Linked DNA regions of Homo sapiens. The protein of the gene in region 1 purifies or fractionates together with the protein of each later gene. This does not show direct contact. Each region holds a gene or a part of one and is shown on either strand. Other genes may lie near its edges.

The links.
Region 2: the proteins of DENND1A (region 1) and LPIN3 purify together in Homo sapiens (affinity purification with mass spectrometry, with the first as the bait; one large-scale study listed by BioGRID). This does not show direct contact.

The regions. Positions count from the first base shown.
Region 1 is NC_000009.12:123,439,542-123,444,821, reverse strand, and holds part of DENND1A (DENN domain-containing protein 1A), read left to right. Parts: intron 1-4,330; coding exon 4,331-4,462; intron 4,463-4,632; coding exon of another isoform or gene 4,633-4,653; exon of another isoform or gene 4,654-5,280. UniProt on the Homo sapiens protein: Guanine nucleotide exchange factor (GEF) regulating clathrin-mediated endocytosis through RAB35 activation. Promotes the exchange of GDP to GTP, converting inactive GDP-bound RAB35 into its active GTP-bound form.
Region 2 is NC_000020.11:41,350,809-41,355,223, forward strand, and holds part of LPIN3 (phosphatidate phosphatase LPIN3), read left to right. Parts: intron 1-1,012; coding exon 1,013-1,112; intron 1,113-1,251; coding exon 1,252-1,412; intron 1,413-1,529; coding exon of another isoform or gene 1,530-1,591; exon of another isoform or gene 1,592-1,614; intron 1,615-1,797; coding exon 1,798-1,891; intron 1,892-1,989; coding exon 1,990-2,059; intron 2,060-3,836; coding exon 3,837-3,929; intron 3,930-4,011; coding exon 4,012-4,055; intron 4,056-4,415. UniProt on the Homo sapiens protein: Magnesium-dependent phosphatidate phosphatase enzyme which catalyzes the conversion of phosphatidic acid to diacylglycerol during triglyceride, phosphatidylcholine and phosphatidylethanolamine biosynthesis therefore regulates fatty acid metabolism.

The DNA.
Region 1 (5,280 bases):
GTCAGGTTTTTTCCTGTTTCAAACAAAATTCATGTTTATTGAGGAAAACTCAGCAAATCAGAGGAACAAAAAATAATCTCATTTTATAACCTGCATTTTCATGTACTATATCCTGGGCATTTCCCAGACCACTAAATACTTCTTCCCCATGTCTTTATTTTATTTTGTTTTGTTTTATTTTTTGAGATGGAGTCTTACTCTGTTGCCTGGCGCAGTCTCGGCTCACTGCAACCTCTGCCTCCCTGGTTCATGCAATTTTCTTGCCTCAGCCTCCCAAATAGCTGGGATTACAGGCGTCCGCCACCATGCCTGGCTAATTTTTGTATTTTTGGTAGAGACGGGGTTTCACCACGTTGGCCAGGCTGGTCTCAAACTCCTGACCTCAAGCGATCTGCCCACCTTGGCCTCCCAAAGTGCTAGGATTACTGCACCAGGCCCACATGTCATTATTTTAAATGACTACATCAGATTTTATCTGATGGACATATATACATTATTTAATATTCCCATTGTTGGACCCTTACATGAGTTCCAATTTTTTCTAGACAAATATCCACATAGGTAAGACTTAGAAGAAATTCATATTATTTCATTAGGATAAATTTCTAAAAATGGGAGCAGTGGGCCAAAGGGCATATACATCTTTTAGGTTTTTCATATAAATTGCCAATTTATATTCCCATGAGAAGGGTATGAGAGTACCTGTTTTCTCAAGCCCTTTGCTGACAGCTACGTTAGTGCTTAGGCCACAGTTTCTTTAATCATGGGTATCAAAAGTTGCTGTTATTAGCTCCCTACTACGTATAAGATCTCTACCAGGAGATAGAACAGAGAATTTGAATGCCCCCCACCTTATTTTTTTCTTGAGACAGGGTCTCACTCTGTTGCCCAGGCTGGAGTGCAGTGGCCTGATCACGGCTCACTACAGCCTCAACCTCCCCAAGCTCTGGTGATCCTCCCATTTCAGCCTCCCAAGCAGCTGGGAATTCAGGCATACACTGCCGCATCCAGCTAATTTTTATATTTTTTTGTAGATATGGGGTTTCCCCATGTTGCTCAAGCTGGTCTCAAACTCCTGGGCTCAAGTGATCCTTCCACCTCGACCCCCTAAAGTGCTGGGATTACCGGCGTGAGCCTCCACACCCAGCCTCTTATTTCTTCCTTGACGTGGGCTCCTCCTCTTGTGCTGCCTGTGGCATCCTGAGAGGAAGCTGTTGTCCTTCTTCAGGTGGAGGGAATAGTAAAGAGGCTAATAAATTGGTGGCCTGCACCACAGGACTTTATAAGAAACCTTTTGCATCTTTGGATCTTCTAATAAATGAAGGTGCAGCACTGCTTTTTGACACGCAGGTACATCTGTGTATTGGACACATTTCCCTTCCAAATGTTTAACTCCACTTTACAAAGGTTTATTTGACAGCATGTGCTAGATTCAAGGCTCTAGGTTAGAGAACCCAGACCCCAACGAACTTACAGTTGATAGAGATACAAAAATAAGATAGTGCTAAGCATGGCAGCCTATGATCAGTGTAGCCAGGAGCTTCCGAGGAGAAGATTACATCTGAGCACTTTTTGAGCAGCTCCTTAATTCAGAATACCTTCACTTGTGCTGTCGTTATGGGATGATATGGCATAAAAGCACCAGGACTCCCATAGCTCTGGGTTATTCCACCTTCTAACTATGTGGCTTTGGGTAAGTTACCCCTTCTGAGCCCTATTTCCTCACCTATAAAAGCAGGATAATCCCATTTACCTTGTGATCATTGTGGGAACTAAGTGTGAGAATGAAGGTCAAGGGTCTGGAAAAGCACAGGGGTAGGCCGTCCACACAGGGAAACTCTTCTTTTTAGCAGGTGCTCTCTCCGTTTTGCAAATTGAGGTTCAATTTGCACAGTGCTGTGACATTTTTCAAAGCTTCCTCCTATCTCATTTCACCCATTCTCCCAGTAGCTTTGATGTTTGCCAAGCAGGTGGTAGTCTCCCATTGCAAAAATAAGGCAATAGGTGCAGAGAGGTTGAGTGATTTGGAAAGATTAGACAACTAGTTAATGGGAAAAACAAAACTAGACGATAGTATTTTTACTTATAAGCGTGAACTAAGATGCTTTTTCCAAAACTACTACATGAATTGTTCTTTTTTTCTAAATAACTATTACCTTAGAGTTTTCTATTAATACCCAGATTTTCTTACCATATTACCTTGCAGCTTCATTTTTTTTTCAGCCAAACACAAACAGGCACACACACCCACGCACAAAATTTTACCTGAACCAAAAGTGAATTTGTTCATGTTTGACCTTATTCATTCTCTCATATCTATCTTGTAGGATCTTCACCTGGATCCAAAATGCCCCTTTTGCCCATTGTTGTTTTCTAGCACAGATGGAACCCCTCCCCATCTTTTTCCACTTGACCTGAGCACCTTTGGACAGCCCCTTTCCAAAAGAGCTGTTTCTGTTTGGCCATCGACAGCCTCTTTCATCACTGAGCCTCAGCCTGGCTGAGACTGGTTGATCAAACGTGGGCCACCTGATCCAAGCCCTCCCAGTAAAGCCAGGAGGTCATCATCTCCCTTTGTTGTTTACCAAGCAGTACAGACTTCTCAGGTCTGGCCTCTACAGGCAGCCTTGATTCCTTAGGAAAGGAGGCCAGCTGGTAGGCAGCTGGATGTGTGAGGTCAAATATTGGTAGTAATGGTAGTAATTGGTAGTAATATGGTAATTCCTATAATTTACTGAATAGCTAATAATATTCTTGACACTCAGTTGTATTATCTGTCTCCTTTAATCTTCATGCTACCATATGCCCATTTCACAGATGAGGAAACTGAGTCTTAGAGATGTATATATGTTTCTTCCTTAATGCATAATTTTTCAATAAGGAATTACTTTCCTCCATGTCCCACCATTCTCTCTTAGCTGAGAAGTTAGGAGCAACCAAGTATCAAGTTTCTCATGTGCAGAATTTAATGAGTACTAAGGGGATATATTTTGTTGATCAAAGTGTATATTTGTTTTGCAATGAAAATAATTGGAACTTGTGTTCATTATATAATTCTGGCTGAGTTATTTTTATTTGGTAAGAAACATGATTATTTAAATATTTATTTGTACATGTATTCTCTGCCTTGTTCCAATGAAGGTTTAAGCAACTTCCTTGACTTGAATAAAACACGGGACCCTTATTGCATGAGTGGCCCCATCCATGTTCCAAATGACCCACGTGTATAGTCAGCTGCCAGCTTCAGCCACCGGAGCCATGGCCTGCCTTTTGCACATTGTGGTTTTTCTTTTCCTGATAATTTGACTTCAGTCATCAGAAGCACAAATTAAATGTAAATTTCTGGATTTAAAAAGATTTCTTTGGTCCCTAAATGTTTCCCAAGTCATAGAGTCCTGAGTCAGACTTCAATCTTTTTATTTTCTGCCAGAAAGATGAGGGGTAAGAAGGGGTAGGAACAAACACATCTTATTCACAAACAACAACATCATCAGTAAACAAATGTGGAAAAACTGTCCATACTCATAATTAAAGTAATGCAAATTAAAGCAACAAGTCAAATTTTTCACCTATTAAATTAGCGATACATTTTTAAAATGATACAGCTCACAAGTATCGTGAAACTGGTAATGCATCCATTGTTGGTAGTTGGTGTAAATTGGAAAGCAATTTGATAGGATGAATAAAAACCCTTGAAAATGTTTATATCTGTTGTCCTAGTAATTTCATTCCTGGGGATTTCCATAAAAAGAGATAATATGAAAGAAAGAAAAACTGCAGTATATATCACTGGCATTTTGAATGTTTAAAAAAAAATTAGAATCCTAAATGCCCAATAGTAGTAGAATATTGAATCGTGGTATATTAAATTATTGTATATCCGCTCAATGAAATATGCATTCAGTAAAATTATTTTTGTAATGACTTTGTAACAACATGAAAATGCTTATAATATAGTGGGGAAAAGCAGGATATAAAATTATGCATGAGCTGTGATTGCAAGTAATTTTTAAACGTCTGCATGTGGACAAAGTAAATACATAAAAATGAAAATGGCTGTGTAAGAGAGTAGGATGAACAATAATAATTGTTTTCCCCACTGTTGTGAATTATGATGTTATCTTTATAACTTCACATGGATGGTTTGGGTTTCTCTAGTTCTTAAAAGTCAAAGAGCCAAGTTAGCCCTCCATTCCCTCCATCTTCATCAAGAGGTCAGGCTCAGAATGTCACGGAGAGAGTCGCCTGGCAGGCCTCTTCGTTGTGGGGTGAGAGGGAACATGGGTGCCAGAACCCCAGTGCCAACCGCTGACTATCCTTCTCCCTACAGGACATTGCCGAGAATGGCTGCGCCCCCACCCCAGAAGAGCAGCTGCCAAAGACTGCACCGTCCCCACTGGTGGAGGCCAAGGACCCCAAGCTCCGAGAAGACCGGCGGCCAATCACAGTCCACTTTGGACAGGTGTGTACCCTGGCCCTCCTACCTGTCTGTTTTGTTTTTTTTTTATTTTTGTTTTTAGCAGCAGTAGCACATGCAGCAGACGGTTTTTCATTTCAGTTCTCTTTGGCAGTGCAGCTCCATGGAGGTTTTCACATCTTTAAATGTTTATTTGGTGCAAACATGTTTTGCAGGCAAATTTTCAAAAATTTTGAGGAGACAGCACGGCTGAGGTCATAAATGAGCGGGACTGTTGAATGAAGTCATTAAATGCACTGCTGCCTCCCGTACTCCAAGGCACTCTGCTTAAGGTGCCTCTGTTAGCTAAGCATCTCATTAGAACACTTTAGCATCCCGGGCCCTTCTTTGCACCTTCAAATAAAAGGCAACAAGCGAAGTCTTAAAAAAAAAATCAATTAGGAGTTCTTTATTAATGTACTTCCTGAAAATCAATATCAGGAGTCGTGCTTCTGAGAGTAAACACCCGTGCTACAATTCTAGAGATTCAATTTTTTAAGCAACTGTTTTCAACTACCTGAGCATTAGAAAAATTGTCTATTTAATTTTTTTTCCCTTAAGTAAAACATTCCACTCTGTATAGAAACTAAAATTTTGTATCCCCTTCCTACTTGTAATTATATTTTTGGTTAAAAAAGATTATGTACCCTTTCCTACCTGTCCTGAATTGACTTTTGGTTAGCGAAAGTCATCATTTGGAGAGATTTATGAGAAATGGCTCTTTTAGCAAGATATGGCTGTAACAAGAATTTGCAAGGTTATTTATTTTTAAATCACCTGATTCTGTAGCCATTTATTAGATGATGCATGATTAAGAGTCTTCA
Region 2 (4,415 bases), on another chromosome or scaffold:
GGAAGACGGCCGGGATAGGAAGTTGGGGAGATGAGCAGACTCAGATGGCTCCAGCTCACAAGCTCAGGTTTATCTAAAAGTGCTAGGAAAGCACGAGACCTGTGCTGTCCAAATCAGTAGCCACTGGCTATATGTGGCTATTTAAAATCAAATTAGGGACAGCATGGTGGCTCATGCCTGTAATCCCAGCACTTTGGAAGGCTGAGGTGGGAAGATTGCTTGAGGAGTTCAAGATCAAGCCTGGGCAATGTAGTGAGAACCCATCTCTACAAAAAAAAAAAAATTTTTTTTTTAACTAGCCAGGCATGGTGGCATGTGCCTGTAGTCCCAACTACTGAGGAGGCTGAGGCAGGAGGGTCACTTGAGCCCAGGAGTTCAAGGCTGCAGCGAGCTATGATCATGCGATCACACCACTGCACTCCAGCCTGGGTGACAGATAAATAAAAATTAAAAATTAAATTAAATTAATTGCAATTAAAATATAAAATTCCATTTTTTTTTTTTTTGAGATGGAGTCTCGCTCTGTCACCCAGGCTGGAGTGCAGTGGTGCGACCTCGGCTCACTGCAACCTCTGCCTCCCGGGTTCAAGTGATTCTCCTTCCTCAGCCTCCTGAGTAGCTGGGACTACAGGCACATGTCACCACGCCCAGCTAATTTTTGTATTTTTAGTAGAAATGGGGTTTCACCATGTTGGCCAGGATGGTCTCGATCCCCTGACTTTGTGATCCACCCGCCTCAGCCTCCCAAAGTGCTGGGATTACAGGTGTGAGCCACCACGCCCAGCCTAGAATTCCATTTCTCTGTCACACGGTGATCACATTTTAAGTGTGCTCAATAGCCACATGTGGCTAGCAGCTAATATATCAGGCAGTGCAGACATGGGACATTTGTATCACTGCAGAAGGTTCTGCTGGGCAGCACTGCCTTAGAGAATTCAGAGTCAGAGGGCACTTACTGTCCACACTGCTGAGCACATGTCAGCTCTACAGATATCCTCTCTTCAACTCTCAGGCTCCCCAAAGAGAAGCCAGCACCTGGGCCCCAGTGACATCTACCTGGATGACTTGCCCTCCCTGGACTCTGAGAATGCAGCGCTTTACTTCCCCCAAAGGTGCCTGGGTTCTGGATGCCAGGGTGTCTTGGGTCTGGGCTCCTGGGGCCAAGGGTCCACTATCAAGGGCCTGTGAGGAGGGAGGACCCATCTCCCGCCCTCCTCGTATTCTTGTCATTGTTGGCCCCTTTGCCTGCAGTGACTCTGGGCTGGGGGCCAGAAGATGGAGTGAACCCAGCAGTCAGAAGTCCCTGAGGGACCCCAACCCTGAACATGAACCTGAACCCACTCTGGACACAGTGGATACAATAGCACTGTCCCTCTGTGGTGGACTGGCTGACAGCCGGGACATCTCCCTAGGTATGTTCGACCATGGCCAAGCCCTTTTGAGGGCTGGTGCTGAGCCCAGAGGATGGGGAGGGCAGGGAAGACTGTGAGGGTGGGGCAGTAGAGGTGAGAGGCTGGGCTTCCCTGCAGCTCTCTGCCCTGTGCAGTCCACACTCCGCCAGCAGGGGCTGGACCTTCCCAAGTCCCCATGAAGCAAAATGCTTGACGCTAAGTTGTGAGTTATCCTGTGAATCCTGGGGTGGGAACAGGTGTAAAAACCACAGGTAGGGAGGAGCACTGCCAGGTTACAAAGCCAACCGACAGGAGGTGAGCAGCAGAGTGGGGAGCACCAGGGGGCTGGGGCAGCGGGTCACATGGGATGTGCCAGCCTCACCCCTCACTCTGCCTCTGTGCCCAGAGAAATTCAACCAGCACAGCGTCTCTTACCAGGACCTCACCAAAAACCCCGGACTTTTGGATGACCCAAACCTAGTGGTGAAAATCAATGGAAAGTAAGTCCCAGAGCTGGGGCTGCTGGCAGCCGGAGAGTCATTTCCCTCTTCACAACCCTGCAGCTGCTGCAGCTTGATGCCCTGTTCTGTCTCTCTAGGCATTATAACTGGGCTGTGGCTGCCCCCATGATCCTCTCCCTGCAAGCCTTCCAGAAAAACTTGCCCAAGGTAATGGTTAGAGCACCACTGCCCCTGCTGGGGAAGGTAGCCATAGACTCAGGGCACGGAGACCCTTAGCAAGGAAGTGAAGGGTGAGCAGAGATGGGCCTGGGAGCCAGGGGCTAGCTGGCTGCAAGACTCACTCTGGGAGAGGCGACACACGTCCCTGAAGCCTTGCCTCACCCTTCCCTGGTTTCCTGGCCGTGGCTGAATCCTGTTGTATTTAAACTTGACTTCAGAGGAGCTCAGGACAAACCAGAGGGGAAGAAAAATCCAACAGATGCTTAAACAAGGACATGTCTTTAGCAGGAGGCCTTTGCATCTGAAATATGGGGAAGCCTTTGGATCTGAAATACGGGGTTTGGGAAATGGAAGTTGCACCCTTCACCTTGCCTGAAGACTATTCCTCCAGGCTGGGCTGAAGGGTGCTTACTTTCTTTATCTGCACACATTTCTTGAGTACCTACTATGTCCCAGGCCTAGGCTGGGGACAGTCATGAATAAACGAAACAAAATTATCCCTGCTCTCAAAGGAAGACGAAGTTAACCAAAGACTCATCCAGATGAATATAATTCAGTCCTGAGCACTGGGAAGGATGGGTGTGCAGTGCTTGCAGAGCCTATGGCAAGGGGGTTTGATAAGCAAGTGCCCGCTGTGCAGAGATTGAAGGATGGGTGGGCCTTGAGCTGGCCAGGGGTGGGGAACAGCATGTATGATGCCCAGAGGGGGAAAGGAATGAGGGTATGCCTAGCCTCTTTACTCTTCCCAGAACCTCTTCCCTGGTCTTCCCAGCCACCTTCCCCTACTCATGGAGGATGGTGCCCTCCTGGGCAGTGCCAGCCTGTGCCAACCTGCACCTGCCCCTCTGGGAGCAATCCAAGGCACCACACTGACCTGGCATGGCCTATTGTTCTTGGCTTGCCCAAAGAGCATCACTAACAGATGTTGACAGCTGTCACTGCCATTGGGTGACAGCTTTGTCCTCTGGCTGGTACAGGGTCTGAGGTAGGACCCAGAGTCTGTGGGAAGGAAGAGGGTCCCTTCCCTGCTTGGATCTCCTCACCTTACCCAGACAGACCCACCGCTTGAGGCCCCTGAGAGACCCCTACCCCACCAGCCTGTTCCCAGCTCAAGGGGGCCCCCTGGCTATTCCCAGCCCAAGCCCACATCCTCCTGACTTGGGTCTGTAGGATGCTGGTGTGTCCCCCAGATGGGACTTGGCCTGGCCTCTCCCTGGGGTTATCTATAATAGCATAGATCTAATCAGCATTTTTTCACAAGGTCAACTTGCCCCCAACCAGACAGTTATGGTAACATACAGAAAAGGGGGTTGTTCATGGAATAGGATCACCAACCTTAGGAGGTTGCCTGGGGCAGTCTTGGAGGTTGAGGGGAGTACCAGCTAAAGATTGTTCTCCCTGCTGCCACTTGGTCACAGCATAGGGAGTACCAGATCTTGAGAAACTCCCAAAGCATTGCTTTTAACTACTCTAGTAAAGGAATGGATCCACAAGATTTGGAGGCCAGGCTGAGGCTGGGTTAGAGCTAGGGACCGGGGCTGGGGGCAGGAATAGCCCTTGGTCTTTTGAGTATAGCTCACCCAAGTCATTGCTTGGAATCCCAGGATGGAGGTGAGCACACTTCCTTGGCCTCCAGATGTTGACAGCACCTTACCCTAGGGTTGGCTCAGACTCTGGGCTCATGCGTGGAGGGTCCCAAGAACAACGTAAGGTAGGAGGTTTATGTGGTGCAGGAAACACTGCCATGGCTTTCATCTGCCCACAGAGCACCATGGACAAGCTGGAGAGGGAGAAGATGCCCCGGAAGGGTGGGCGATGGTGGTTTTCCTGGCGACGCAGGGACTTCCTGGCCGAGGAGGTGGGTGGTCACAGTCGAGGGCCAGGGCCAGGGCCAGCACAGGGCGGGAGGTGGGATTCACTAATGGATGTTCTTTCCACAGCGCAGTGCCCAGAAGGAGAAGACTGCAGCCAAGGAGCAGCAGGGGTGAGTGAGACCCCCTATTGGGGCTCTGCAGGGGGAGCCTGGGAAAGATGGCCCTGGGTGCAGGTGGGTGGCAGGGAGGAGCCAGCACCCTGTCTCCAGCTGTGGGTTTTTTTTTTTGTCATTCCTCAAGCACCAAGCACTTCTTTTTTTGTTGTTTTTGTTTGTTTTTGAGACAGAGTCTGGCTCTGTCACCCAGGCTGGAGTGCAGTGGTACGATCTTGGCTCACTGCAACCTCCACCTCCCGGGTTCAAGCGATTTTCCTGCCTCAGCCTCCTGAGTAGCTGGGATTACAGGTGCCCGCCACCACACCTGGCTACTTTTGTATTTTTAGTGAGACAGGGTTTCACCCTGTTGGTCAG